Linked DNA regions of Homo sapiens. The protein of the gene in region 4 purifies or fractionates together with the protein of the main gene of each other region. This does not show direct contact. Each region holds a gene or a part of one and is shown on either strand. Other genes may lie near its edges. The genes, in order: VAMP7, DAAM2, PMEPA1, PDGFA, ITM2B, GM2A and KRT72.

What was found.
Region 1: the proteins of PDGFA (region 4) and VAMP7 purify together in Homo sapiens (affinity purification with mass spectrometry, with the first as the bait; one study listed by BioGRID). This does not show direct contact.
Region 2: the proteins of PDGFA (region 4) and DAAM2 purify together in Homo sapiens (affinity purification with mass spectrometry, with the first as the bait; one study listed by BioGRID). This does not show direct contact.
Region 3: the proteins of PDGFA (region 4) and PMEPA1 purify together in Homo sapiens (affinity purification with mass spectrometry, with the first as the bait; one study listed by BioGRID). This does not show direct contact.
Region 5: the proteins of PDGFA (region 4) and ITM2B purify together in Homo sapiens (affinity purification with mass spectrometry, with the first as the bait; one study listed by BioGRID). This does not show direct contact.
Region 6: the proteins of PDGFA (region 4) and GM2A purify together in Homo sapiens (affinity purification with mass spectrometry, with the first as the bait; one study listed by BioGRID). This does not show direct contact.
Region 7: the proteins of PDGFA (region 4) and KRT72 purify together in Homo sapiens (affinity purification with mass spectrometry, with the first as the bait; one study listed by BioGRID). This does not show direct contact.

Annotation. Positions count from the first base shown.
Region 1 is NC_000023.11:155,936,637-155,940,611, reverse strand, and holds part of VAMP7 (vesicle-associated membrane protein 7), read right to left. Parts: intron 912-3,975; coding exon 819-911; intron 1-818. UniProt on the Homo sapiens protein: Involved in the targeting and/or fusion of transport vesicles to their target membrane during transport of proteins from the early endosome to the lysosome. Required for heterotypic fusion of late endosomes with lysosomes and homotypic lysosomal fusion.
Region 2 is NC_000006.12:39,872,203-39,876,177, forward strand, and holds part of DAAM2 (disheveled-associated activator of morphogenesis 2), read left to right. Parts: intron 1-1,035; coding exon 1,036-1,153; intron 1,154-3,127; coding exon 3,128-3,266; intron 3,267-3,975. UniProt on the Homo sapiens protein: Key regulator of the Wnt signaling pathway, which is required for various processes during development, such as dorsal patterning, determination of left/right symmetry or myelination in the central nervous system.
Region 3 is NC_000020.11:57,654,359-57,658,333, reverse strand, and holds part of PMEPA1 (protein TMEPAI), read left to right. Parts: intron 1-3,975. UniProt on the Homo sapiens protein: Functions as a negative regulator of TGF-beta signaling and thereby probably plays a role in cell proliferation, differentiation, apoptosis, motility, extracellular matrix production and immunosuppression.
Region 4 is NC_000007.14:509,676-513,650, reverse strand, and holds part of PDGFA (platelet-derived growth factor subunit A isoform 2 preproprotein), read left to right. Parts: intron 1-1,195; coding exon 1,196-1,300; intron 1,301-2,654; coding exon 2,655-2,842; intron 2,843-3,975.
Region 5 is NC_000013.11:48,235,882-48,239,856, reverse strand, and holds part of ITM2B (integral membrane protein 2B), read right to left. Parts: intron 1-3,975. UniProt on the Homo sapiens protein: Plays a regulatory role in the processing of the amyloid-beta A4 precursor protein (APP) and acts as an inhibitor of the amyloid-beta peptide aggregation and fibrils deposition. Plays a role in the induction of neurite outgrowth.
Region 6 is NC_000005.10:151,263,031-151,267,005, forward strand, and holds part of GM2A (ganglioside GM2 activator isoform 1 precursor), read left to right. Parts: intron 1-3,700; coding exon 3,701-3,883; intron 3,884-3,975.
Region 7 is NC_000012.12:52,598,239-52,602,779, forward strand, and holds the start of KRT72 (keratin, type II cytoskeletal 72), read right to left. Parts: upstream 3,226-4,541; 5' UTR 3,215-3,225; coding exon 2,789-3,214; intron 1,065-2,788; coding exon of another isoform or gene 1,033-1,064; intron 875-1,032; coding exon 660-874; intron 1-659. UniProt on the Homo sapiens protein: Has a role in hair formation. Specific component of keratin intermediate filaments in the inner root sheath (IRS) of the hair follicle.

The DNA.
Region 1 (3,975 bases), on a different chromosome or scaffold from region 4:
AATATATTCTGAATTTAACAATTCAGCTGCACAAATCAACCTAAACTCCCAGACCAAATAATAAGTAAGAAGCTAAGCTCAGGAGCCTAAAATGTGATATTAGAAAGAGAAACCTGAGCAAGGAACCATTCAAGGCCATGACAATTACTTCCAGTATAAAATCTACAGATCTATGACTGCTCTTCTCTTTTAGATAAATCCAGCTGTCTAAGGCAGAGGACCCTCAAGCTGTGGTAGAGGAGAAGCAGGGTCAGAGTTATCTGCTTGGAGGTAACTTTGGGCTTCTGGACATGACTGGAGGATGGGGAGGAAAGGCAACTTTATCTGACCATGAACAGGGTAAAGCACCCCCCACCTGTTAGCAATAGTTTTTAAAGTTGTGGTTTAGGACCTCTTTACACACTCAAAAATTACTGAGGACTCCAAAGAGTTCTTGTTTAAGGGGGATTATAATTATCAGCATTTGCCATATTAGAAATTAAAACTTTAAAAATACATAATTAATTTAAAAATAAAAACAATAAACCCATTACATATAAACCAGAAATGTCTTTATTTAAAATAACTACATTTCTGTGAGGTCAGTTTTATAGATCTCTTCCTATTGAGAATATATAATAATTCTCAATAGGAAGGAGGGGTTTAAGTAGAGATATTTCATAGTGACTTCATAGGAAAGCCACTGCCTGGTCATGTGTTTCACTATTAAAAGACATATGTAGCTCATTTCAGAGTGTTAATCATTGAGAAATAATTCTAGTACCTAATTTCTTAGAGATTGAAAAATAAAGCCATACACTAAAAGGACAAAAACTTACAATTGATACGATGATGATGATAATAGTGAGCTTGAGGTTCTTCATACACATGGCTCGAGCAAGATTTCTGCTGGTAGTTTTGAAGGTGACAGACTAGAAAAGAGGCGAGAATTGTTTAACCCCTGGCACTGACTACATGAATGATTTGCAGTAACAACCTGAGAACATTTTACTTCCATTAATTCCATTTAAGTCCAATGACCTCTCTTTACAAGTAGAGACTGGCCATTCATACTCAATAGTTGCCAAAAGCAAGACTCTGCCAGGCCTATCATAAGCAGTATGAGCCCAATGAAAACGCTTCCCTCTTTTTTCTTCTCCACTGCAGCAATGCACATGATGTTGAGCACCAGAAGTGGTTCTTCCCGCTAGTGGAAAAGAATTTTCCTCTCTATACTTCCAATAAGAAAGGCTCTTTTAAAGCCAGCTGACTGCAAGCACATTCGCCTATTCTGCCCCGTATAATTCCGGGGCTTTGAGCCATAAAAACCTGTTTGATTTCTGTAGGAAGATATGTATTTACTTTTGTGAGGGCCAAAACCCATAGAACTTCATTCCTTCTGCTATCCATTTTCTTTTGCATCATCAATTTCTCAGTATCTACTGAACAATTCCCACCAGGACACAAGGAGTTTAAAACAAAATGGCAAACAACCAACCAACAAAACTCCCTAATAATCCAGCAATCCACTCTGGTATGGTCCCACAGATGTATGCAAATTCACCAAAAGACATATAAAAAAATGTTTTGGACAGCACTACTTTTCATACCTTAAACTGGAAACCACCCAAATGCCCATCAACTGTGCAATGCATAAATTACAGGAGAGTCATAACATGGAATACAATACAGTAATGACAATTCACAATCTACTACTACATTTATACAATTTACCACAGATGAATCTCACAAACATCATTTTGAGCAATAGAAACTTGACATAAACAGAATACCTGCTATATTTTATTATTTATCTTGAGACAGGGTCTTGCTCTGTCGCCCAAGCTGGAGTGCAGTGGCACAATTACGACTCACTGCAGCTTTGACCTCCTGGGCTCAAACGATCCTCCCACCTCAGCCTCCTGAGTAGCTGGGACTATAGGTGTGTGCCACCACTCTCGGCCCCTGCTATGTTTTATTAATCTATGTGGAGAAATCAGGACAGTGGCCACCTTTGGAGAAGAGTAGTGACTAAAAGAAGGGAGAAGGGAGCTTCTGGGGTACTGTTCGTGCTCTAGTTCTTAATCTGGGTGTTGGTTCTACATGGTATGTTTACTTTGTGAAAACACAACAAGTTGTATGCTTACAGTTGATGCACTTTATGTATATTATACTTCACATATTGGTTTTAAAAAATCCACTCCCTTAACCATAGATTCATCTCCAACCACATACTCCACAAAGTCTCTGCAGTAGAACAACTGACAGGGGCACCAGTCTTTGGGTTTCACTTCATGAAGACTGCACAGGATGCCACCTGGAGGCACATACCAAAACTGATTACATCTAGAGCTAAATATATATGTTGAATAGAATATATGCATTGACTAGAACTTTTGAGAAGAAACAGCAGTTAAAGTGAGGAGACAAAAAAAGCAATGGGGACAAACAGTCCTTAATGGAACAAAGTTAATATGGGAAACAAGATAGAATAACAGTAATAAAAAAATTTCTAATAAGTATCCTCAGATACAAGACATAATTGAACTAATTTTAAACAAAGTCATCAGAGGACATAAAAAATTAGATAACATGACAACATTCCAAAAACTATATTTTAATAAAATGGCATAATTTTTTAAAAGCAGAACATAAATGAGCAAAAGCAGCTTCTGCAGTAACAATTCAAAAAATTTGTTCTGAAAACAGCAAAATGTCTAGGTTGTAAATCATGAAAGAAGATGTAAGATACACGGAAAACTGATCAAGCAAATCCAGGATCAATTTATACGATCAACAGATATTTAACATGTGCTTATTATGTGCCTGGTACTGATTTACACACCTATTAGCAGTCACAGGAGAGAATACAGCCAAAAGAGAAGGATCAATAATCAAGGGACTAATTGAAGAAAATATCCCCCAAATAAGACAGACTTGAATCTTCAGACTAAAAGGACCTACCCACCATGTGGCAAGAATATTGAAAAAAGGAAAATGTTACACTTTTAGTAACATTTCAGACCTCCAAGCTTTTGTTTCTACTCTAATTTTATTTTTTTCTGCCTTGAAGTATAATTGGCAAATAAAAATGGTATATATTCAAGGTATACAATGTGATATTCTGATAAATGTACACATTGTGAAATTATTACCACAATCAAGCTAAGTAAAATATCCATCACCTCACATAGTTACTTTTTTGGGTATGTGGTGAGAATGCTTAAGATCTATTCTTATAGCATATTTCAAATATTCAATACATTATTATTAACTATAGTTGCCATGCTGTATGTCCGGTATCCAGAACTTATTCATCTTACAACTGTAAGTTCATACACTTTGACCAACATCTCTCCAGGTCTCCCACCCACTGTCAACCACTGTTTTACTCTCTGCTTTTATGAACTGAACATTTTTTTTAGATTCCATATATAAGTGAAATCATACAGTATTTATCTATCTGTGTCTAGTATATTTCACTTAATATAATGTCTTCTAGTTTCATCCACATTTTAGAATTTTTTTTTCTATTCTGTGAAAAATGCCATTGGAATTTCAATAGGGATTGTGTTGAATCTGTGTATTGCTTCAGGCAGTATGAACATTTTAATAATATTGATTCTTCCAATCCATAAACATAAGGTATCTTTCCATTGATTTGTGTCTTCTTGAATTTCTTTCATCAATGTTTTATAATTTTCAGTGTGCACATTATTACATCCTTGGTTAAATTTATTCCTAACTATTGTACTCTTTTTGATGCTATCATAAATGGGATTTTTAAAAAATTTCCTTTGATTCCTGTTCCAAGATGGCCAAATAGGAACAGCTCCAGTCTACAGCCCCCAGCGTGAGCAACGCACAAGACGGATGATTTCTGCATTTCCAACTGAGATACCGGCTTCATCTCACTGGGGCTTGTTGGACAGTGGGTGCAGCCCACCGAGCGTGAGCCGAAGCAGGGCGAGACATCGCCTCACCCGGGAAGCACAA
Region 2 (3,975 bases), on a different chromosome or scaffold from region 4:
CAAATGCCAGTCTCTTTGGGAAACACCCTCACAGACATACCCAGAAAGAATTCTTTACCAGCTATCTGAGTATCCCTTGATCCAGTCAAGTTGACACCTAAAACGAACCATCACATCTCACTTCCAGAGCCTTGGTAGTATGCAGGCTGTGGAAGCCTCCCCCGGGAAGGCATCGGCCTAGGAGGAGACTGAAACCCCCAAAGGAAAGGGAGCAAGTTATTGCATGTGATTAGTCTCAAATACCTTTCCTGGGCTGACTTTCCCCTGCCTTCCAGCAACTTCCTGAGTCCCCTCTCCCCATCCCTAACCAGATCATGCTTAGCAAACTAAATTGTATTTTCATTTTAACCTCGGCAACCCTGAAAGCACACAACTCTGCTTTATTGTGTTATAAAATCCCCATCCAAATAGAAAGCTACTTTTGGGTGGTGCTTTACAGTCACTGAGTGCATCCATTATATTTTCACAAAAGCCCTGGATTTATAGATACAGAAACAGAGGTTAGAGGGGATAAGCAGCTTGCCTGTCATCACACAACTAAAGCGTAGATCTGGGGTTTGAACCCAGGTGGTGGACCTGCGCCACATTCCACCTGCTACTTTGAATCCTCTATGCCCCTGCTCCCTTCCCTAGTTTGGATCAGTAGCTCTCAAGCAGGGATGATTTTGCTCTCCTCTCCCCCTGGGGACATTTGCAATGTCTGGGGACATTTTGACTTGTGTGAGGGGGTGCCACTGGCATCTGCTAAGGAGAGGCTGGGGTGCTGATACACAACCTACAAAGCACAGGGCAGCCCCCACAATGAGTAATTATCTGACCCAAGATGCCAATAGTGCTGAGACTGAGAAACTCTAGTTTATAAAATTGACTATCTCCCTGTTCCTTTTGTCTTTCTCTTTTTAAGCCTGGGCCAGAGGCAGGGGAAGAAAACCTTTCCTATGAGACAGGGCATAGTGGATGGAAGCAGGGTCTTCTCTCTCCTGCTGACTTCCTCTGCTGCCTACCCACTGATCACTGTGCCCTCTTCTCTCCCAGGTCCACATCGACACCAAGAGTGCTTCCCAGATGTTTGAGTTGATCCACAAGAAGCTGAAGTACACGGAGGCCTACCCCTGCCTGCTCTCTGTGCTGCACCACTGCCTGCAGATGCCCTGTAAGTACCCTGCACTTGCTGCTTCCCTCGACTGGCCTGAACCTTGACTTGGGGCAGGTTTAGACAAGACTTTGGGACCTCCCTGGTTTGGGGAGTCTGACCATGTCTCCCTGTGCACTTGCTTTTGGGAGGGCAGGCCCCATGACGGAGGCCCCTGCTTTTCCTTCCCTCCTTGGGGTCAGGTCTTCACTGTCATCTGGGGAAGGAGCTGGGGACTTGGCCCTGAGCAACTCCAACATCCTAGTCCAAAAACGGTAGCTTGATCATTGCAAAATTAAATAGCTCAGCTTTCAGCTCATGACGGGGGAGAGATCAGTCATGCTGGGGAGTTCCAAAAAGTTTTGTGCTTGGGGGAGTAGCACAGATGTGGAATGAACATGGTTGTTTTTTTCCTTAAGGTTTTATCAACTCCTTCATCTAGTCCTTGTTGGCTTCCACTCTTGCACTCTTGCCCCTGCTTCTGCCTACAAATACCAAATGTCAGCATCTATGGGAGCAGATGGCTAAGTTCTTAAGATCCAGGTGTGCACAGTGATTGAATAAATTGTACATAATTGCTAATAGCCACTCCAGAATGCAATTTGAAATGAGCTTTAACTGTACCCCTTGGTACTTAAGCTCTTCACAAAAGAGAATATTTTGAAAACCAGTGTGGCCCACCATAATGGTTGATGTTGGCGGTGTCAGCAATCATAGTGACAGTGATGACAACTGTGACTTATTGTGTGCCAACTCTGGGCCAGGCGTGATGTGAGGTCCTTTAGCACATCATCTCTGAACCTTAGAATGACCTAAGGAATACACATTATTATGTCCATTTGAATAGTGAGTGAACCTGAGGCTCAGCGAGATATTTACATATAGAAAGAATTTTGGTTTCTGCGGGGTCAAGGGTTGAGATAAAACATGTTCTGCCTCTTTGAGCTAGTGACCTGGCTTTACACGATTTTGCTGGGTGAAAAGTAGATGGTAAATGATACAACTTTGCAATGCATGTGTCAGTAGACTTGTGGACAGGATAGATGCAGTGACCTGAATTAAGAAGCTATCAGTTCTCCAAAGCTCATTGCAGCAGGTCTTCATGAAGGGCATAGAAATCTCTGGGAAACCTGACTTCTTGTGCTCCCAGGGATTCCTGTGTTTCCTGTTCCATGGGCAATGTGAATGGGTTCTTCTACTCTGCCCCAAAATGGGGCTTTGCAGACTCGATATTCTACCTTGTAGGCATTGTGGTTTGCTTTGATGTCAGGATTGAACTTGTTGGCTTTTTATGATGGTCAATAAAGTGCTAGGGATCAAGGACCAAGGAAAGAGAGTTTGTGGTTATTACATAAAAAGGAAGTCCATGTCCAGCCAGATGACTATCATTAGAGGGGATGAGAGTGAGACTCTATGAGATCACACACAACACACTATGCCTTTACCTTCATAGTTCAAGGTCACTTCCACAAGAAATTTTCTCGAGTTCCATTAAGCACTTCTCTAACCCATTTTGACTCTCAGTGCACACCTGCAATCAGTTTCCCTTCATCTTTCTCTGTAGAGTAATAATGTGGATAATCCTAAAATCTTTTTTAAAAAAAACTTCCCTGGAGACTTCATTATTCAGCATGTAATATTTTGGAGCAGGTGGTTTTTATAGATAATGTAAAAAGCAATCTGCACTTCCTGGGCATAGTATGCCCAGGGTCCAAACAAGGAAGAAAGGCAGCCAGAAAGTATTTCAGGGAGTAGAGAAATATGTTGGGGAGGTGGTTGACACATCCGTAGAAGTCTAGTTGCCGATAATCAAGAGATGACTGAATCAGTGAGTTGCCATTATCAGCAATGGCATTGCCTCTTCTTCTAGACTGGGAGCTTACCATAGGTGGAGAAGGGCATGCCTCACCAGCCAGACCCCAGGCAGCAACTCTAGGGTGGGGCCCAAGGGGGACTTCAGGACTCAGGAAAGATATGATACCTGTCATCCCTCAGACAAACGGAACGGTGGCTACTTCCAGCAGTGGCAGCTCCTGGACCGCATCCTCCAGCAGATTGTCCTCCAGGATGAGCGGGGTGTGGACCCTGACCTGGCTCCCTTGGAGAACTTCAATGTCAAGAACATCGTCAACATGTGAGCAGTGGCCAGCCTTTGCCCTGTCTTCCTCCACCTTCCTCATCACTCTCCCACTCTGGTCTCACCAGCGAAACCTCAGCTCCCTTTCGCAACCCAGTCATCCCGAAATGAGTCTTGGGCAGCATGGTCCAACAGAACTCTCTAAGCTAATGAAAAAAGTGCATTTCTCTACTGTTCAACATGGCAGCCAAATGTGGCTATGGAGTACTTGACACACGGCTAGTATGACCAAGGAACTGAATCTTAAAGGTTGTTTCATTTAAATTTCAATAGCCACATGACACGTGGCTAGTGATTACTCTCTTGGACAGCCAACACAGGTGTATTGGGCATGTTCTCAACTCTCCACGATCCACTGCATGGCTTGGATAGATGGGGAATTTAAACACATTAACGTAGAACAAGGGTCAGCAAACTATGGGTGCATGGGCTGACTCCAGTCCTCCAGCTTATTGTGTATGGCCCATGAACTAATAATTTTTACATTTCAAACAACACACACACACAAGTATAAGTGACAGAGACTATGCATGGTATGTAAAACCTAAAATATTTACTCTGGCCCTTTATAGAAAGTTTGCTGACCACTGACATAGAGCCTGACCATTTGATCATGAGGTTGCTGGATAAGGTTATCAGAGCCTAAGGCCTTCTGGTTTACCATATTTTATTGATCTTGGATAGAGAAACACAGAGAAACATTTAA
Region 3 (3,975 bases), on a different chromosome or scaffold from region 4:
GTGCAGGACCAGGTGAAGTGGGCGCGGGAGTGTGAGGAGGACAGAGCCCTGCAGGAGGGACCCCGCTCTCCATTACAGTCCTGGGTGTTGATCTCTCAGAGTTGTGAGCATTGGTGGGTGTTCTGGAAACCCCAAGAATTTCCCTTTCGAATCTCCACAAAGTCAGGGGCAAACAGGGCAGATCTGGGTCGGTGGGAACTTGCCCGCCTCTGACGGTGAACTCCCGGCTCCATGTCGGCCGCCTGAAGCCCGGCTGTTCGGTATCCTTCAGCAGGTGGACCAAAGGGCGGCACAGAGTTAATCTCTTAATGGCTTCCATCTCTGCACCCAGGATGTGTAACTCAACCACGTGGGGCAGGAAGCGGCTGTTTAAAGAGCAGGCTGGGAACTGTGGGGAGGAGGTGGCACGTGGCCAGCCCTGGGGCTGCGGCACGTCTCTGAGCCGGGGCTCACCAGGTGTGGGGAGGACTCACAGAACAGGCAGCACTGAGTGTGGCCTCCCCACTTCTGGGGACGCCTGGGGTTGGTGGTGGCGCCCAGAGTCCCTGGGCTGAGCCAAGTCAGCTGAGAAGCCTGTTGGCCACAGTCCCTAGCCGGAAGGCCTGTCCCTGGCAGGTCTGGACACCTCTGCTTGCATCAGGCCCCAGCCTCAGTGCGTCACCAGGTTGCCAGGGCAAGGAGCATCAGCCCTGGGACCTCTGATGGGAATGCCTGGCCCACAGACCCGGGGCCCACTGTGCGTCCCAGCACGCTGTCCGGAGGGCGTGCTGCAGACCTGCTGCTCTCAAGCCCCGACGTGTTTATTTGCTGTTGCTACCACTCCAGCAACAAGCACTGGTTACGTCTGCCCAGGGATGCCATCAGGGACTTCAGGGGTTCACCCCACTTTCCAGAGGAGAAACTGGGGATGAGAGAGGTGGAACATTTGCCGGAGGCCACACTGCTTGTCACTGCCGGTGTGAAGAGCCCACAGCCTATTCCGTCCTCCCTCAAGTGCTGGGGAGAGTGACGGTGCCTGGACATTCCAGAAGGCACCAGCCCTGGAGGGGCACTAACTCCAGGCTGGACTCACCTTGCCCCTCGGAGCCTCAGTGTGTGCATCTCCACAGTGGGTTGAAGCTAGGCCTGTGCGGCCCGTGGTCATGGGGAGGATGCAGTTAGTGGAGAGTGTACCGTACCCAGAGGCCGACTGCAGGGGCTTCACTGTTGTGGAGCAGGAGACGGCACCTGGGATCCTGCTGCCAGGAAGGGGTAGGATTCCGTCACACCTTCGGCCAATAGAAAGTCTCCTCCCACTGTCTACCCAGCCGCCTGCACAGCCGCCCGGGATGCCTGGCTGGGTAAACGTGGAGCCTCACTAGGCCTAAAGCAGAATGTGGCAGCTCCCCTGGGGACCCCCTGCCAGACAGGAGTCCCTGGGCCCCGCGGCCTTCCATAGAGATCCACATACAGCTCTTATCTGTCCCGGGCCCAGTCTACATCCCCCCAGCCCATCCATGCTCTGCCCCTGGCATGGCTATCCGACCATGGCCCCTTTTCAGGGTGACCCTGGGGGTCCCCTCTTGCCTGTATGGAGACAAGAGCTCGTGCCTCACCCACCTGCCTCACCATCTCAGGTAAGACCCTGAGCTCTGAGGTCTTTTCTCGGCCTTGTCACCTCCTTGTTGTGTGACACTGGGCAAGGATCTGCCCTCTGAGGGTGAGGCTCCAGTGCAGGCAAGCCCCTCGACCAGGGATGGCACTTCCACCCTGGCGCTGCTCCGAGGGTATTCGGGACATGATGCAGAACGTCACTGCAGTGACCGCCCAGCCACGGAGTGGCGCAGACTTCAGGTTTACCCAGAAAGGCAATCCCAGTCTTTGTGCCCAAGGCCTGCTCAGACTAGGAACTCAGGCCTTGGATGGGGTGACCCTTTGTCCTCTTTATCCCCCAATCAGTCCTCAGTGTGGGTCTCCTGCTCCCGAGAGAACCCAGCCCACCAAGGGCCCATTTCCCAGGGGCAGGGACAAGACTGTGGCCAGGCCAATGTGCGACAATCTGCCAGCAGCGGGAGCCAAAGACCTAGCGTCCACTCCCATGGCCTCAGGAGATACCGAATTCCCCCAGGCCCCTTGTGCTGGGCTGTGGGGGAATTCAGTATCTCCTGAGGACATGGGAGGTACCGAATTTTTTAGGAACATCTCTTTATTCTTTAGAAACATCTCTGAGTCCTCGAAGTTTGATAGAAGGCCATCCCGTCCCCTTGGATGTTCCTGGGGACTCCAGGGGAAGAATGGGCAGCTACGTTCTGGCCTCGTGGTGTTAAGACTCTGGAGGGGTCTGGGAGGAGCTGCCTGAGCGTCAGCTCACTGCGGCTGCCTGGTTTTGTCAATGAGGTCTTTTCTGAGTGTGAATGAAGTGTTTTCGAGTGCGTTTTGCCCATAGCTGCGCTTGGCTGTAGCAGCAGGGTTCAGTGGTATGACAGAGACCCGCCGGCCCACAAACCAGAAAATATTTTACTCTCTGGCTCTTTATGGAAACAGTTTTCAGACCCTTGGTCTAGAAGCATCTAAATGGGGAAGGCGCAGGTGGACTGGGTGCGCCCACTTCAAAGAAGAGGAGTCCACCCCGAGCCCTGGGAGTCTGGGAGTGGTTGGAGGCTGCTGGGAGCAGGGGGCTCGTCAGCAGTGGCTGTAGGATTGGAACCTGTCCTTGTCCTCCACCTGGGGTGACTGGCAGACATAGCCAGAGGCTGGGGAAGGTTCCAGACAATTCTGAAGCTGGGCCCACCTCCCCCGACTTCTCAAGCCACTTTGGAACCTAATTCCACAAAGATGACTTGCACGGGTCACCCAGCAACTTCCGCACTTAAGTAGCAACCTGAGCACTCCCTGACTGCATAGCACGCCGGCGCCTGGCACTGGGGAAACGGTAGCAGCTCCTGCAGGGCGAGTGAGACCCCTGAATAGGCCACCGGGGGCAGAGGGACAAAGGCTGTGGTGCAGGAGGGGACTGGAGGAGATGGGAGGAGGTGCCTGACCCGCCTGGGGGGCTAACGGAGAGCTCTGGGGTTAGCACACCTGGGCAGAGGCTTGAGGGGCCAGTCAAAGTTCTTCAGGAAAGGGAGGAAAGAGGGGCCATTGGTCCAGACCCAGGATGGGCTCAGATCCAAAGGCAAGACGTGAGAGTCTGTGTTCACTGGGCACCTTGCAGAACACACTGTATGGTGCATTGCAGGCGCTGTCATCAGCCCGCTATACAGATAGGAAAACCCGTTAAAGGAAACAGCTATACTACGGCCGTGGACATCTAGGGGGTATGGGCCTCGGTAAGGGGTTGGAACTTTCTCTCCTGGAGGCAGCGGGGGGCCCAGACGGTTTAAGCAGAGGAGTGGCAGGGTGTGGGGTGGGGGGCATGAGGGAGATGTTCCCACTTCTGTGAGGAGGAAGGGCCCTGGGGAAGGGCAAGAGTGGAGGAGACCCTGGGAGACCCCTCAAGGACCTCAAAGACCAGCGGCACTCGCAGCCTCTGGGAGATGGTGAGACACGCAGGCTCGCCAGCCCTCCTGCTACAGAATCTGCATTTTTGCAGGCTGCAGATGGACTGTCTGCACATGGAGGCCCTGGTTCCATAGGACTTTGCTGTCCACTAGGCACAGATGCTGGGGAGAGAGGTGGATAGAACTGTCTAATAGAAGGAGAAGTGAGAGGGGATCAAGGGTGGGTGGAACAAGGGTGGTGGGGAGAGGAGCTGTCAGGAATGATCCTGTGGATCTGGCTTTGCAACTTGAAGAATATCAGAGCCATTCGCTAAATCAGGAGACGAGGCAGTTAAGACCTCCTTAAGGGGTAGGAGCGGTCCTGACGGGACAGTTTTGAGGGGCCACAGAGCCTCCTAGTGGCCATATGGGAAATTACCACCCTCTGGCCGTTCCTACCCAGGCTGCAGGTGAGCGGTATCCTACCTGGGAACCCTCAAAAAACCTGCCCCAAGGG
Region 4 (3,975 bases):
GTCTGGATTGGTGACCGGGACTTCCCAAGCTTCCCAGGAGGGGGCAGGGAGATCTCTGTGCCTCTGGAGCATCCTGGCTGTGAGGCTCACTGTCTCCGCGCCTGTTCACCCTTGGTTATATGGTGGGGGGGGCAGGATGGAGGGAGATGGGAAGAGACTCCCCAGCTGGGACCAGGGGGCCAAGGCAAGGAGGCCCAGAGCCACCCGCGGTGCCCAGGTGCGGGCAGTGTGTCCATGGGCAGGACTGTGGGTCCTCTCCCTACTGCGGGATTTGGAGAGACCTGAGACTCCCCCAGCCTGTCTGCTGTAGCCGTCAGCGCCTGTGAAGGGGTGGTGTGTGCAGCTGGGTGGGGTGGCGGGGATAGGTTCTCAGTTCTGCTCCCCGGTCAGTGCTGGTCTTGGCTCTGGGCCACTGCCCCACCTGCACCTGGCCGCCTGGCTGTAAACACGGCTCGCAGATGCCAGCTTCTCTCAACCCCTCTCCGCAGGCCGCCTCCCTCTGTCAGGCTGCGGGAACTCCTCCGTGTAGCCTCCACGAGAGGCCACGTGCCCTCCTGCCTCTCCTCATGGCCGCTGGCCCTAGAGTAGACTCATTTCAGGAATGAGTGGGGTCTGGCCCGCAGCCCAGTCTGGCGGCTTCCAGTGCCCCTCAGAGGTTAGGCCACTTCTTCCAGGAGTGCTTTAGTGAGGGGGAGGGAGGGAGACGTACAGGCACCTGCAGAAATCTCAGCGGCCTCTGCTTCTCCCTCGCTCCAGCCCCCAGACAGAGGTGGGGCCTGGCTTAGCCCTGTGCCCCTCGGGGAGGTGCACGGAGCTGGGCGGCCTCAGGCCCCTCCTGCCCCGGGGCAGCCCTCACCTGGGCTACCTTGGAGGAGGCACCGTAGGGGAGACCACCTGCAACCTCTTCCCCGAAGGGCCCTGCGCTTCGTCACGGGCCCCTGAATGTGGGGACCTCTGTGCTAACGGGGCGTTTTCTGCGGTTTCCAGTGTTTCATGCCCTGCATCTCTGGAAAGCCCTGGTGGGAATCGAGGTTCTCCTGGAGGGCCCCTAATGGCGGGAGCTGTGAGGGGCTGTGCCGCCAGGTGCCTGTTCCCCAGTGGCTCCCAAAGCTGGTCTGTGGGAAGTGCGGCTGGACAGGCCCAGGGCACAGCGCACGGGCCTGGGGCATTCACGGTGTTCTCCTTCCGCCTGCAGGGAGTGAGGATTCTTTGGACACCAGCCTGAGAGCTCACGGGGTCCATGCCACTAAGCATGTGCCCGAGAAGCGGCCCCTGCCCATTCGGAGGAAGAGAAGCATCGGTGAGTCCAGGAGGCCGCGATGGGCAGGGCAGGGCCGGGTCAGGGTGAGTCCAGGAGGCCGCGATGGGCAGGGCAGGGCCGGGTGGGGAGGAGCTGCCCGCTCTCCCAGCGCAGTGGCCTCAGGCAAGCCACCCGTTCCCTCCTCCCTAAAATAGGCCTGGCCCTGGTGCCTCTGGCTCTGGCCTCTCCCGAGGCCTCCCTCCTTCGAGGGTGTCTCCTGCCCCAGCCCGCCTGCTCCTCCTGGAGTCCTGGTCTGGGCCAAGAGAGCTTCCAGGAGAGAAGAGCCATCATAAATTCCTTAAGCGCCCTGTCTTGTCGGGGCCTGTCCCCAGGAGCCTTGCCGGAAACGTGGTCGCGCCTAATTTCCAATTCGCAGTGTGGGCATCGTGCTCCTGCGCCGGCTGCTGAACTGGTGGGGACGCGCGTGCTGTGTCCGGCGGCTGCCCCCCGACACCCTCACCACACCCGTGTGCCCCGCCCCACTCACACCTGGCTCCAGGGCTCCACCCCCGCGTCCATTTGGGGGATATTTTGTCCCTTCTTACAGGACAGCCCCATGGCCCTCCAGCCCCCTGAGGAGGAACTAGCAGGTTTGGGGAGTTCAGGGGCCAGTCCCTGCTTTCTACCCAAGTCCCGCGTCCTCGGGGGTCCCACCTGATGGGTTTGAGCCCTGGTGCTGCTCATGGCTCTGGGGCCCTGAGCAGGTGGACCCCCCTCTCTGAGCTGTGGTTTCCTCCATGAAGATGGATTTTGTATCTTCCACCTTAAAGTGTCATGTGTGGCTGGCTAGTCCCAGCTGATGCAAGCAGGCCCTCCCCAGGTGACATTTGCTGTGGGGTCTGCATTTTGCACCCTTCAGACCACTTTTGAAGGCTAGAGCATGCAGCAAGTGCTGTAGGATTCACTGTTAAGGCCCCCTCCTCCCCCAGCCACTGGCCCCACCTGGACTAGGTTCCCCTCTGCCCCTGCCACCCCCAGTCTCTGGCCCCACCTGGACTAGGTTCCCCTCTCCCCACCCCCAGTCTCTGGCCCCACCTGGACTAAGTTCCCCTCTCCCCACCCCCAGCCACTGGCCCCACCTGGACTAAGTTCCCCTCCCCTCCGAGCCACTGGCCCCACCTGTCCAGGTCCCTCCAGCCTGCAGGCACCGGGCTGGGCTCCTCTGGATGTGTGGTGCTCCTGCCCACCCAGCCCCTAAGCCTCTGCTCCCAGCTCAGCCTCTGCTGCCTGGGAGGAATCCTGGCCTGTGGCTTACCCTGGTTGCCCCCCAGGCCCAGCTGGAGCCGCCTCAGCCCTGGGGTGGGGCCGTGGTCGCAGAGGCCGGTCCCCGCTCACTGTGCCCCCGCCGTTGCAGAGGAAGCTGTCCCCGCTGTCTGCAAGACCAGGACGGTCATTTACGAGATTCCTCGGAGTCAGGTCGACCCCACGTCCGCCAACTTCCTGATCTGGCCCCCGTGCGTGGAGGTGAAACGCTGCACCGGCTGCTGCAACACGAGCAGTGTCAAGTGCCAGCCCTCCCGCGTCCACCACCGCAGCGTCAAGGTGAGCCCTCCCCTCCCCTCCCCTCCCCTCCCCTCCCCTCCTCTCCTCTCCCCTCCCCTCCTCTCCTCTCCCCTCCCCTCCTCTCCCCTCCCCTCCCCTCCCCACCCAAGCCCGGGGCCGCCCCTACCAAGCAGCCAGGGTCCCTCCTGCATCCACCACCACAGCGTCAAGGTGAGCCCTGCCCCTCCCCTCCTCTCCCCTCCCCTCCCCTCCCCTCCCCACCCGAGCCCAAGGGCCGCCCCTACCTAGCAGCCAGGGTCCCTCCCGCGTCCACCACCGCAGCGTCAAGGTGAGCCCTGCCCCTCCCCTCCCCTCCCCACCCGAGCCCGGGGCCGCCCCTACCAAGCAGCCAGGGTCCCTCACGCATCCAACACTGCAGCATCCAGGTGAGCCCTGCCCCACGCAGGCCTGAGGGTCGCCCCTACTGGGTTGCCAGGGTCCCTCCTGGGAGGCCACAAGGTGCCCCTGGTGTGGCTGGTGGGGGTGCACGGCTGCGCTCCCATCTCCCTGGCAGGTACACTGAGGCCCAGGGAGGAGAAGGAGCACCTGGGGGTGCGGGAAAGGCAGGGCCGGCCGGGGCTTCTGCTCTGCTGCTCTGGCGACGAGCCTGGCCTCCTTTCCACGCCCTAGACCACAGTGCGGGGGCCGTTTTGGGCCTTGCGAGGTGTCGAGCTGCTTAGCCGGAAGCTGTCTGGCGTCCCCGGGCCCTGGAGGGTCCTGTGCGGGCTCTTCAGTGGGGGCCGAGGTGCATGGCAGGAGGAGTAGGGGGTGGATATTCAGAGCCTGCATTGCCTTTTGAAGTGCCTGACCTTTGGAGGGCCCCCCCGGCTTCCCCCCTAAAGCAGCCCAGGAGAAGGAGAAGGAGTGCTTGGGGTGGGCTCGAGGCCAGACAGCAGACTTCCTTCCATAGAATCCCAGGGTGAGCCCCTCTTTCTTTAAGTTGGGGGTGGTGCCTGCCTTCTTCAGGCTGCTTTAGCAGAATTCCATCCACTAGGAGCTGATTAGCAACAAATGTATTTCTCAAAGTTCTGGAGGCTGGAAGTCCAAGATCAGGGCGCCGGCAGACTGTGTCTCCGCTGGAGCCGTGTTTTCTGGGTTCATAGATGACACCTTCTCGCTCTGCCATCAGTGTG
Region 5 (3,975 bases), on a different chromosome or scaffold from region 4:
CAGCAGGCAGGCAGTATTTGAAGATATAGGCTATAATTTGCCAGTCCTGCGTTCCACTTTAAAGGAGATTATAAAATAGTGGCCCATGCCTTCAGTGTTTTGGGCTAAAATTGTTGTATAAATTAAAATAGTACTGATTTTTAGCTTGCCTTGGAAAATTGGAGGATCCAGCAACACTGGACTCATGTTTTAAAAATGAAAACCAAGAATATTCTTTTGTTTTTTGAGACAGAGTCTTGCTGTGTCACCCAGGCTGGAATGCAATGGCGCAATCTCAGCTCACTGCAGCCTCCATCTCCCAGATTCAAGCGATTCTCCTGTTTCAGCCTCCCAAAAAGCTGGAATCACAGGCGCATGCCACCACGCCTGGCTAATTTTTGTTTTAGTAGAGACAGAATTTTGCTATGTTGGCCAGGCTTATCTCGAACTCCTGACCTCAGGTGATCCACCAGCCTCAGTATCCCAAAGTGCTGGGATTACAGGCGGTGGCTTGCGCCTGGCAGGAAAACCAAGAATATTCTTACTTGTTTCATATGCAAAAAGTCCAGCTTCAACAATTCATCTGCTTCAGCCCAGGAGACACTGAATTTGCCTTCTCTGCTTAAGATGCCTAGCACGGCCCTAGGTAAAACTGATAGACAGGAAATTTTATGTCCCAGTATTAAAGGGAGGAAAAAATGAATTGGATAAAGTTATATAAAATGAAAAACTGAAAACTGATAATGCAAAGCTAAATAGACTAGCTCTCAAAAATCATTTTCCCCAGCATAAAAATGGGTCTGCTTTTGGATACTGCAGAGATTCAAGTGATTTAATTAACAATGCATCTTTTAAAATTTTTATATAAAATAATTTAAAACATTATAATCATATATAAGCAGAGAAAATAGTTAAGACTTAAGCTTTATCCTTAACTCATTCTGAAAACAAACAACTTTTAAAAATAATTTGCATCTTGACTGCTCTGCCTATGCAGTACCATTCTTTTACTCCTTTACTTTCTTAATAAACTTGCTTTCACTAAAAAAAAATAATAATTTGAGCCTTAAAGTTAATCATTCAAATAAACACAAAAATCCACCAAACTTGTTTTTTAAAGTATGAAATTCAACTATGCCAAAAACGGTTTATGCAAATATTTCAAAATTTCAAAGTACAAAATATCCACCACCATACTTAGTATCACTTTCCCAAATAAACGTCCAGGATATTTAACTCAGAAGTGGTATTATATATAAGCTGTGAAAATTTTATTTCTCTTTTGTCGTACTTATGTTAGTTCAACATCATAAAATTATTGCTGGTAACTTATCAGTACTGAAAGATAAAACATTAAGTGAAAAATCAGAATATATCTCTACCATAAAAACAAGGGTAATTTCCTCATCGCTACAACTCAAGATTCAAACTTTTCTGTTTAAGAATAAAAAGTCTACGTTCATTCTTACCTGATTTTTCCCCAAGTACAATTATAGAAATACTGCAAAAAGTTTTTTCCTCTAATAAAAGAGCTTAAAGAATGCACAATAATTTAAAATAATCTTGTTCATTCAATTGTTGATAACACTTATAAAATGAGGTTGTATTGTAGATCTCCTTAAAGCTATTAAAAATATGTGTTGTAAGTACTAATTAAAAGGGATAATCACAATTAAGTGGAAATTTTTCAAAAATGATGTCCTTAGTGTTATAATTTCCAATTTTCAACTTTCAGCTGTCTACTTTGGAAAAGACTTTCATTGTGAAGCACAGCTCCAGTGTTAATATTTTGTATATCATTTAGGCAAAAATCACCTCATTCAGAAATTCAGAATTGTCAAATCCTTTAACAGGTTTCAGTAACGGTCTAAAGTCCTTAATTTCTTTTCCTTTAGTCTTTAAGCTCTAATAAAATGCCACGTTTGCCAAAAAATTTAAGAGGATGATTTTACTGGTAACCCAAAAAGATTTTTTTTTCTGAGTCTTCCTTTACTGACACTGACATACAAAGCAGTACAAGAAGCTTTAGTTAAATCTAGGAATTCAGGAAGTAGTATTTCCTTTTGGAAAAAGAATGTGGGTTTTGAATAGACACGCCAGACATTTAAGTTATGGTATGATAAAACTAAGAGAAATAAAATCTCCCCCAATGACTACTTAGTACATGTTTCTATGTACATTTACCCACAAGTCAAGATTTGGAAATGCATAATAAACACCTTGTAAGTCAAATTCTAAATTAATTTAAATAGGCCTGTAACATAAACGTATTTGAGATATTTCTGCTTAAAAAATACTTCCAGTCACATAAACCTTTTATATGTCAGAGTTGAATTCCATGAGGTCACTCAGGCTTATTATGCCAAGTATATTATACTCATTTCTGTCTAGTTGGGAAGACTACAATCCTGTGCAATATGCAACCTTGCACACCCAATATGCTACAGCAGTGTCCTGTCAGGGATGTGTACACAGGAGGTCCTGCCAAGGCATTTGGGATGCACAGACGCAATTCATTTATTTCCCAGCACTAAACCCTCAATTCAGATATTAATATCCTCATGGAGAACCAAAATGTAATGTAAAAGTTTCACTGGCCAATATCTGCAAACACGGAATTACATAACTAGGTAATAAGATGCACTTTGGTTAAAGAGAACCAAGCTCTCAATCCCTTGAGAGCATTATATCAACATTATAGTAAATGGCCAGCCATGCATTTTATGTCCCTTCTCCTCACTCCCCAAAAAACACACAAACAAAACCACCACCACAAACGAAAAGCTTAATTATCAAAACCTTCAGTCTTGATTGTGTGAATAGGGAAAACCAGAAAGGGTAAAGAACCAGGGTCTAAACAGCCATTTGTCATGGGTAACTCAAAACTTTTACTGGGTGAGTCGGCCTTCACTTTCTCTCTTGCACTCACCCTGCCACTATTTTCTCTCCTATATCAGCACTTTACTTTTCTCTCTCCTTTTAAAGAATATCTACAAAGTGGGGTAGAGAGAAAGCAACACTATTTGTCAGCAAAACAACTTGCAGGGATACATATGAAGCAAGCTTAAGCTATTCTGTGGCCTGATACTGGAAAAGGGGTTTCATAAGCAGGCATTGCAACAAAGAGGTGCTGACAACTTCACTGTTCACTGTGAGGTAAACAGAAGTGACAATGTGCTTTATTACATAATACCTCTACCCATCTCCTTTCTCTTTGACCCACTGCTACTTGATATGAGGGAAGAATGTAACATGTTAAACACCAAAAGGAAGAAAGGGAATAGTCTGGTTAGAGTGAGGAGGTAGTTGCTATTTTTCACAATTAAAACAATTTAATGTCTGCCAAATATAATTATGTAATCCTAGCATCTTCATAGATTTTTGAAACTGGAAGAATCCTTACAGGCCATCTGGTCCTACCCTCTCATCTTACAGACAGAAAACCTAAAAATTTAAGCCCAAGATCAAGTAGTTATGTAATGACAAAACTGGGACTTCTGATACAGTACATCAAGTATTTTGTTATCTGCAAATATAAAACAATTTCCCAAGGTTCAAAGTATTGCCACAAAAATATATGAATTGTTGCCTATAGCATAAAACATGTATATAATTTCAAATTCACTTCTGCTACCCAAAATACATCCCATCTTTGCTGTCTCTATAGCTCTAAGAGCTTTATGCCTACTAGGAGAGGAGGAAGGTGAAAACAATTAAGGGGAAAATGCAGGAAAAGAATAAACAGCAAGCTAGTTGAGATAAAACTATCAATAGAAATGGCTGTTAGGATTAATAGCTGCTGAAAAGATAAGACTGAAAAATGGGGTAATAGAACTGTTTCTGGAGAGTTCTCACCCTGCAGAAGAAAAAAATAGAAAGACAGGAGCAATGTAAAAGTACTGGAATGCATGTTATATAAGCCAGCTGATTAGAGTGATCAGAATTCTTGTGGCATAAGGTAACAGAATCTGCATTTTAAAACCAGAGCAGGTGGTC
Region 6 (3,975 bases), on a different chromosome or scaffold from region 4:
CTTGTGCTTAGGAAAAATTAGCCTCAGATCCCCTCTGCTCCTTCTTTTTCCCCAATTTCTTTTTTTTTTTTTTTTTTTTTGAGATGGAGTTTCACTCTGTTGCCTAGACTGGAGTGTAGTCGCGCGATCATGGCTCATTGCAACCTCTGCCTCCCGGTTTCAAGGGATTCTCCTGCGTCAGCCTCCAGAGTAGCTGGGATTATAGGCGTGCACTTTTTTAGTAGAGATGGGGTTTTGTCACATTGGCCAGGCTGGTCTCAAACTCCTGACCTCAGGTGATCTGCCCACCTTGGCCTCCCAAAGTGCTGGGATTACAGGCGTGAGCCACCAGGCCCGGCTCCCAATATTTCTCGTATATATATATATATTTATTTATTTATTTGGTTCAGTTCTTTTTTCAGGATATGTGCATATCAACTATTAGATGAAAGCTCTTCTGACCACTTGCTAGGGAGAAGAGCCGATGAGGGACAAAGGGTCTCAGGAAAGGTTGCAACTTGACCCAGGTCACAAAGCTAGTTGTTAGCATGGACAAGGCTGGTATGTTTATCTTGGGGTTTGGTTCCTGAGCTTTTACTGGCAGGGAGGTAGACTTGGTGCTTGGTGTATTTGCAGGGGAGGGGAGAGGAGTGCTGCAGATTCAGTTCCAGAACTCTCCCCTTGCCCAGCAGACCTGCTTATGAGAGCTGCCCAGAACTAAGCTCTGGATGAGCCTGGAGCACTCTTGGGGTCCATGGGGCTTCAACCCCTTGTTACACTGAGGCCCAGAGGAGAGTGACTGCCCAAACCCAAGAAAGCAACTGCCATCCTCTCTTTCTCTGATCTTGCTGTAGTGAAATTTCTTTAATCAAAAGTCAAATCTGGGACCTGGCTGGATTTGACTCCAGCTGCAATTTTTAAAAGTTAAATGTCCCGGATTCCATGGCCGTGGGTAAGACTGGGGCCTGCTCAGGAGCTCCCTTTTCTCTTTTGACTTGCTCCATGGGATCTGGCATAGTTAATAACTCCCAATGCCCAGCCCTCCCTCAAGTTCCAGCCTGTGGGACCCTGGTTTTCCCATCCTCAAGAACTGTAAATTGTCACTGTATTTGTCATATGTACTTATTCCAGCCTTTCAGGCCTGGTAACTTGGCTCCCCCAGCACCCAAAGTCATATACATGCCTGGGCTCATTACTCCACCCTGCTTCCTTTTCTGAGTCATAGTAGCAAATAGATTGAGAATAAGAAATGAGCCATCATTTGTAATTTCCAAATGGTAGGTGTGGCTGCTGCCTTAGAACCCTCTGTTGACTTCAGTTCAGTACACTTCTTGTGTCGTGCTGGTCCTGTGCTGGGGGCAGGAGTAGAGATGAGGGAGCCACTACCTCTTCTGGTAGATGCAGCCCTACAGGTTCCAGCCTGGTGGGAGGAGCCCTGGCAGGACTTGTCCCCCTACTGGCCTCCTCCACTGTGTGTTCTCACTCAGGGCATAACTGGCTCAAACATTTTCATTAGGGTATTGGCGACACAAGGAGAGAGTATTGGCTAAGGAAAAAGGCAGGGCAGAAGTCATGGAGGAGGAAGCTTTTGATTTCAGGCACTGTGCAAAGTGCTGGTATTTCCCTCTCAATGGGACCTGTGAGAGAGGTAGGCACTCTAAAATATCCCACTTTTGAAGATGAGGCGAGGCTGGATACAGTGCTTCATGCCTGTAATCCCAGGACCTTGGGAGGCCGAGGCGGGTGGATCATTTGAAGTCAGGAGTTTGAGACCAGCCTGACCAACATGGTGAAACCCCATCTCTACTAAAAATACAAAAACATTAGCCAGGCGTGGTAGCTCATGCCTGTAATCTCAGCTACTCAGGAGGCTAAGACAGGAGAATCGCTTGAACGCAGGAAGCAGAGTTTGTAGTGAGCCAAAATCACACCACTATACTCCAGCCTAGGTGACAGAGTGAGACTCTGTCTCAAAAAAAAAAAAAGAAGGTGAGGGAATGGCCACTGAGAGAGATTAAGTAACTCACCCAAGGGCACAATAAAACTAGGAAGTGGCAGAACTAGCATTCCAACCTAGGCCCTCTGACTTTTCCTAGGCAGCGGGGTAGAAGCAGGTTTGATGAGAGAGAGGAGGGCTGAGAGGGTGCTGTGTGGCCAGTGGTGGAGATAATGGGTATGTCTTAGGAGCAGATGAGGCCAGTGAGAGGAGCAATTAGAATTTGTCCACTCAGACCACAGGATGTGCTAACTTCTTTGTTCTTTCTGGGCCTGGAGGAAGGCAGCTAATATCTCGACATCTGGGGCATCTGGAAGACTTGAGTCCGTGGCCTGGGAACCAGCCTGAGCCCAGCAGCCTCTTAGGACATAAGTGCCCATCCAGGATTTAATCTCTTAGAAACAGAGCCCCAAATAAAGTGAGCCTAGAGGCTGGGATTCCTAGAATGCTAGAATGTCAGAGCTGAAAGGGATCCTAAAAATGTGATTTCCTGCCATAACACGCACAAGGAATCAGATATTTGAGAAAGCTAATTTCCTGGTGCTCTTTCCTGAGAGTTTTCCCTTGATACCTTTGGTGGGTGATGGACATGGTTCTAAAGCCAACTCATTTGGCACTAGAGGCAACTAACACATGGTGACTGTTCAGCGCGTGCCCGGCACAACTGGGATGTCCACCATGAAATTTGGGCCACTTCCTCCTGGTCAGCTTCAGCCTCCAAAACGGGAGCAAAGTCATGACAGTATGGAGGTGTGAAGTGTGTTCTAGAGCTTCTCACCCAGCCCTACTCCAGGCACAAGAGTCTTTTGTAGCTTTCCCGGCTGAGTCAGGGAGCCCGTACTCCTTGAGGCAGCTCCATCTGTTGTAACCTAGCTATGATTTTATACCAGTCTCAAGGTGATCTTTCTATACATTCCTATTGTTCTTAATTCTGTCTTCTGTGGCTGTACGGAGAAAATGTGACCCAAGAGCAGCCAGTTGGGTTCATTTTGGTAACCAGCTCATCAGTTGGTAGTAACTACCTGAAGTCCTATGCAGAAAAGGATTTTGGGGCCACGACTGGGCTCAGAAGGAAAGCCCAGGAAACAATGCCACAGTTAACCAATTAGCAGTTAGATGACAAGTGCATTTCAATGCAAGTGTTAGAGCCAATCAATGGGTAGTGACTACCTAAAGAATTCTAAGACTATGGACTGAGCATGATGGCTCACGCCTGTAATCCCAGCACTTTGGGAGGTGGAGGTGGAAGGATTGCTTGAGGCCAGGAGTTCCAGACCAGCCTGGGCAACAAAGTGAGACCCCATCTCTACAAAAAATACAAAATTAGCTGGGTGTGGTGGCATGTGCCTGTCTGTGTTTCCCACCTACATGGGAGGCTGAGGCAGGAGGATCGTCTGAGCCCAGGAGTTTGAGGCTGCAGTGAGTGCAGTGAGCCATGATACAAAAAAAAAAAAAAAGAATTCTAAGTCTATGTATAGTTCAGTGTAGGGGGAAAATTCACATTTGATTATTAATGTCTGCCATGGGCACAATAATACACTATACTCACACATGGGCCACAATGTTGCCATTCCTAGAACAGACTATCTCTAAGATCTCATCCAGTTAAAAATTCTATGATTAAAATATATTGCTGCTTTTTTGAAGACAGAAGAGCTGGTATGTTTGCCCTGGAATTTACACTTATAACCTTTTTCAAACCTTTGTTTTATTTTTTTTTACCAGGTGGATTTAGTTTTGGAGAAGGAGGTGGCTGGCCTCTGGATCAAGATCCCATGCACAGACTACATTGGCAGCTGTACCTTTGAACACTTCTGTGATGTGCTTGACATGTTAATTCCTACTGGGGAGCCCTGCCCAGAGCCCCTGCGTACCTATGGGCTTCCTTGCCACTGTCCCTTCAAAGAAGTAAGTACTTAGGGAGGAGAGAGCGTTACCCCTGTGGCTAAAGAGATGGGGTTTGGAGAGAAGGGTCTTTGCATTCTCCTTCTGCAGATCTG
Region 7 (4,541 bases), on a different chromosome or scaffold from region 4:
GGGCAGGTAGATTGAATATGGAGCAAGAGAAAGAACTCAGCTCTGACGACCTCCAGCCACTTGAATTGTGGAAGAAGCCACCTGTCCCTAGAAATCCTGGCATCTGGAAGCAAACTTCCAAAATATCAGGTCACACTGAGCCTTGATTTATTACTGTCTCATATTCAGCTCAACTTGGAGGAGGACACAACCTCTGGTTCCATCTCATTCTCAATCATCCTCAAACATTCTCAATTATTCTCTTTAAAGCCAGGATTCAGCAGCACAGCCATGATTCAACATGGAATAAGTTTTTTAAATTCTTTTTTTTAGATTTAAAATTTGCCCTGGAATTGGTGGGGTGTCTTACATTCTGGGAACTGCCATGGAAAACTTCACTCAGGAGGAACTACAAAGGCATTTGGGTTGTCCATCTGGTTTTGATACAACTCTCTTTCCCCCATTCCTTCATTTTCAGTGCTAGAAATTGAGCACACATTTCCTCGACAGTTTGGAGAACCGGTGTAGGTAGATCTATTCTTTTCCTAGTTCCATTCTGTCTGGATGTTCCTCCCTCCCCCGGTATCAGCAAGGATCTCAGAAGCAAAAATGCCATCTCCAAACGAAAACCTCATTTGAAATCAGATCCTCCAGGGCCATATTCCCTGCCACTCACTCACCTCTTCTTGTAGTCCTCCACCAAATCCTGCATGTTCCTCAGCTCCGAATCCAGCCTCACCCCGTCCCCAGACAGCATCTCCAGCTGCTTCTGCAGGTTGCTGATGTAGCCCTCATAAATGGGCTCCAGGTTCTTCCTGCAGTTGTTCAAGTCCAGCTGCTGTAGGAGGTTCCACTTGGTCTCTAGCACCTGATTCTGCTGCTCCAGGAACCGCACCTGGAACCCAAAGGCAGTCATCGCCCAGAGTCCCCATGTTGTTGCCTCTCAAGAGTGGGGAAAGGGCCCCAAAAACCAGAGGCAGCCATCCTGGGGGACTGGGGGTAGGAGAAAACAAGGCTTATCCCGGGGTGGATTCAGCCGAGGGACATGCTCACCTGGATCTCCAAGACAAGAAATAGGACCCGGTCTATATGGAATCAGGAAGAGGGCTTAAGCAATGGTACCATCTGCCTCTGCCTCAGTGAGTTTTCATGAGACAGAGGTAGCTTCTCATGCTATAAATGCTGGTGTTTTCTGAGTAAAGAGAAATGGGGAGCAGGGGAGAAACAGGGACTGGGGAGTGACATTGGAAAGCACACTGGCATTTAGAGCGTTCCTCCTGTTGTGTAGCCTAAATTGCACTTGGTTTGTTCATTTCTTTGTTGTTCACAGCAAGTTACCACATCTTCACAAAGTTCCTTCATACTTGACCAGGGTGCACATTTTTAGACTCAATAACTCCAAGCCCTCTGCCACACACCAGCATTCCTCTTCTCACCTATCTTTCAGCTTGAGGGGCAGAAGGAAACATGCTAGGGAACAACAGACATAAAAGAGCAAGAGAATGCTCTGGCCTCTGGAATAGCTGCTGTGTTTCTTCCATGCAGACCTGTGCCCTCCCGCCACCTCAATTCCTCTTCCCTAGCATAGTGGTGACACTCGGTCCACCACCAACTGTCCTGTCCAAGGTGAGCTCATTTCTTAGCCTCCCATGTCTTAATATCCTCATCTGCAAGGCAGAACAACAACAGAATCATGGGTTGTGATTGTAAATGAGAATCACTTGGGACGGCACCATAAATGTCAGCTATTGTTATCAGGCTGTCCCCTTATCACTCACCGTCTAGACCTTCCATCCAGGTGGAGACAAGAGAAGTCCATTCCCTGTCTCCTCTCCACTCACTGGGGTCATTGCCTCAGAAGCTCCAGAGACAACTTCCCTATTACCCCAATTTCTGGATGCCCCACCCTCAGCACACACCTGTAACTTTACATGCACTCTTTCCAAGTGCCTCCTCAGCCTCACCCTTCAGTTTTCTGGCCCTTTTCTCTCACCTCCTCTATCATCTTCCTGGCTACACACTTACCCCACTCCTCAAGCACCAAGCACCATGTCCTGCAACGTCTCTTGGCCTCTGTTCCTAATGCCCTGCCCTGAATGTGGGTCCCATCTCCTCTTCTGATATTGGGAGCTCTCAAAGTGCCCATTCCTTGGACATCCTGACCCCTCCCTTCTCACAGTCTTGTCTCATGCAAGAAAGAAATGAAGGTCCTTGATACGTTTTGGCTGTGTCCCCACCCAAATCTCAACTTGAATTAAGTCTCCCAGAATTCCCACGTGTTGTGGGAGGGACCCAGGGGGGAGGTAAATGAATCATAGGGGCCGGTCTTTCTCCTGCTATTCTCCTAATAGTGAATAAGTATCACGAGATCTGATGCGTTTATCAGGGGTTTCCGTTTTTGCTTCTGCCTCATTTTTCTCTGGCCGCCGCCATATAAGACGTGACTTTGGCCTCCCGTTATGATTCTGAGACCTCCCCAGCCATGGAGAACTGTAAGTCCAATGAAACCTCTTTTTTTTTTTCCCAGTCTCGGGTATGTCTTTATCAGCAGCATGAAAATGGGCTAATACATCCTGTTTATTGGAAGTATGTGCCAGGCACTGTTCTGAGCACTTCGTAAACATCCCAATTAAGCCTCATCGCAACCCACTGGAGTAAGACCCATTATTGTGCCCATTTTACAAATGGAAAAGGGAGGCTCGGAGAGGTTATGACCCGCCCACGCTCCCACACAGCTCGCCAGTGGCAGAGCCAGCACCACTGTGCACATGCGCCCAACGCAGGGACAGGCCAATGCCCGAGGACTCACCTTGTCGATGAAGGAGGCGAACTTGTTGTTTAGCGCCTTGATCTGCTCCCGCTCCTGGGCGCGCACCCTCTGGATCTCGGGGTCCATCTCCACGTTGAGCGGGGCCAGGAGGCTCTTGTTGACGGTGACCTGAGGGATGCCCCCGGGTGGGCACACGGAGGGACACTTGGGCCCCAGCCCGGCGCTGCCGAAGGCGGTGCCCACGAAGCCGCCCAGGCGGCCGCCGCCCCGCCGTGCAGCAGCGCTGAGCGCCAGGCTTCGGCTGCCCCCAAGGCAGGAGAGGCTCTTGCTGCCAAAGGAGGCCGAGCCCTTGACCCGGGCCCGGAATGAGGCGGAGCTGCTGCCGATCCCGCCAGAGAGGACCGCGGAGCAACCGCTGAAGCCCAGGCGCTCCCCGCGGGGGAAATGGGTCAGTTGGCGGCTCATGGCTCGCAAGTACCGGTGCTGGCCGCGCGGGAGGCAGAAGGGGCGCAAACAGCCGCTGCGTTCTCGGCCCAGCTCGCCCCTTAAATAGCCTGGCTGGCTGGAGTCAGCCTAATTTGTATGTCGACAACACCTTTTAGATCCCTTGAGGCCTCTTGGGTTCTTCATGTAGGAAATTACCATGCACTCACCGAGATTTTTGTCTGTTCCACCGTGAACTCCCCATGAATCCCTGTAAAGTGACCCAGAACCCAGCATTTACTTGGCTCACCTCCTGCATTATCATGGCTTAGCGACCTTATCTCCACCTGCTGGCCTCCAATTACTGGGGTTATCACTCCCAAGATCACCCCTGGAAACTTCCAGTGGGGCTGACCCTCTGGGTGTGTGTCTGGGGAGACGGAGGTGTGTGAAGCAGAAGTCCAGGCTGCTTCTGCTTCAGAAGGCCATGAATAGAGTCAAGACTATCGCAGAAAATCATCCTTAGCCTGTCCTCCTCCTGCCTCCCAGGCTTCTGGATGAGGACAGCTCTGTCCCTTGTGCAAGAAGGAAGTTCAGAAGGAGGAGATTTTGGCCCCGTCTGCAGAGACCTCTCAGTCTGTTGGAGAAGGCAGGACACAGAGACCTCTGGTCACAAGTGTTGAGGGTTGACTTTGGACCAGAGCGAAAAGATTTCTCCACTAAGCATTTCTGGACTAAGAATGGGGACCATGCTATCTGGGAGGGAGGGAAGAAGGCCTGGGGAGGTGGTACAGGAAGACTCAGGCATGGTTTAGCAGATGGTGTTTCCTAAGGCTTTCGGTTGTTTTCATTTTTGTTTTCTTTTAATAGCAGAAGAGGCTTATTTATCCCATCCAGCAAACCTCTGCTCAGGTCATTTGCCACCCAGTCATTTCTGATTCAGCATCAAAATGTGATCAGTTATTAGGAAGAGGTCAAGACTCTTCAGATCTAAAACCAAGAACTAGATTCTAGAACTTCATTCCCTTTAAGCTACAGAGGCTCCTTCTTCCACCTAACCCGATTTCCTTTTCTCAAACTTAAGCTGCCTTCAAGTCTCCTCCTCTCTTAGCAACAGCTCTCCTGTTCCTCTGGCATGCAGGTGGGATTATTTCATTGCTCTTATTTCTTAAGCTGCCAGAGTCCTGGGTGTGTGTTCCATTTCCTCTATCAGATTGACAGGGCCCCCTGGATTCACCCTTCCCTCCTCTGCTCCCCCAGTGCTCAGCCCAGGCCTTGGCCAAAGGGACATTTAGGATGATTGTGAAACAGCAGAGTGCTTAGGGCAAGGCTTGTTACTGCACCTTCAGTGATACCCTGAAGGCTGGGT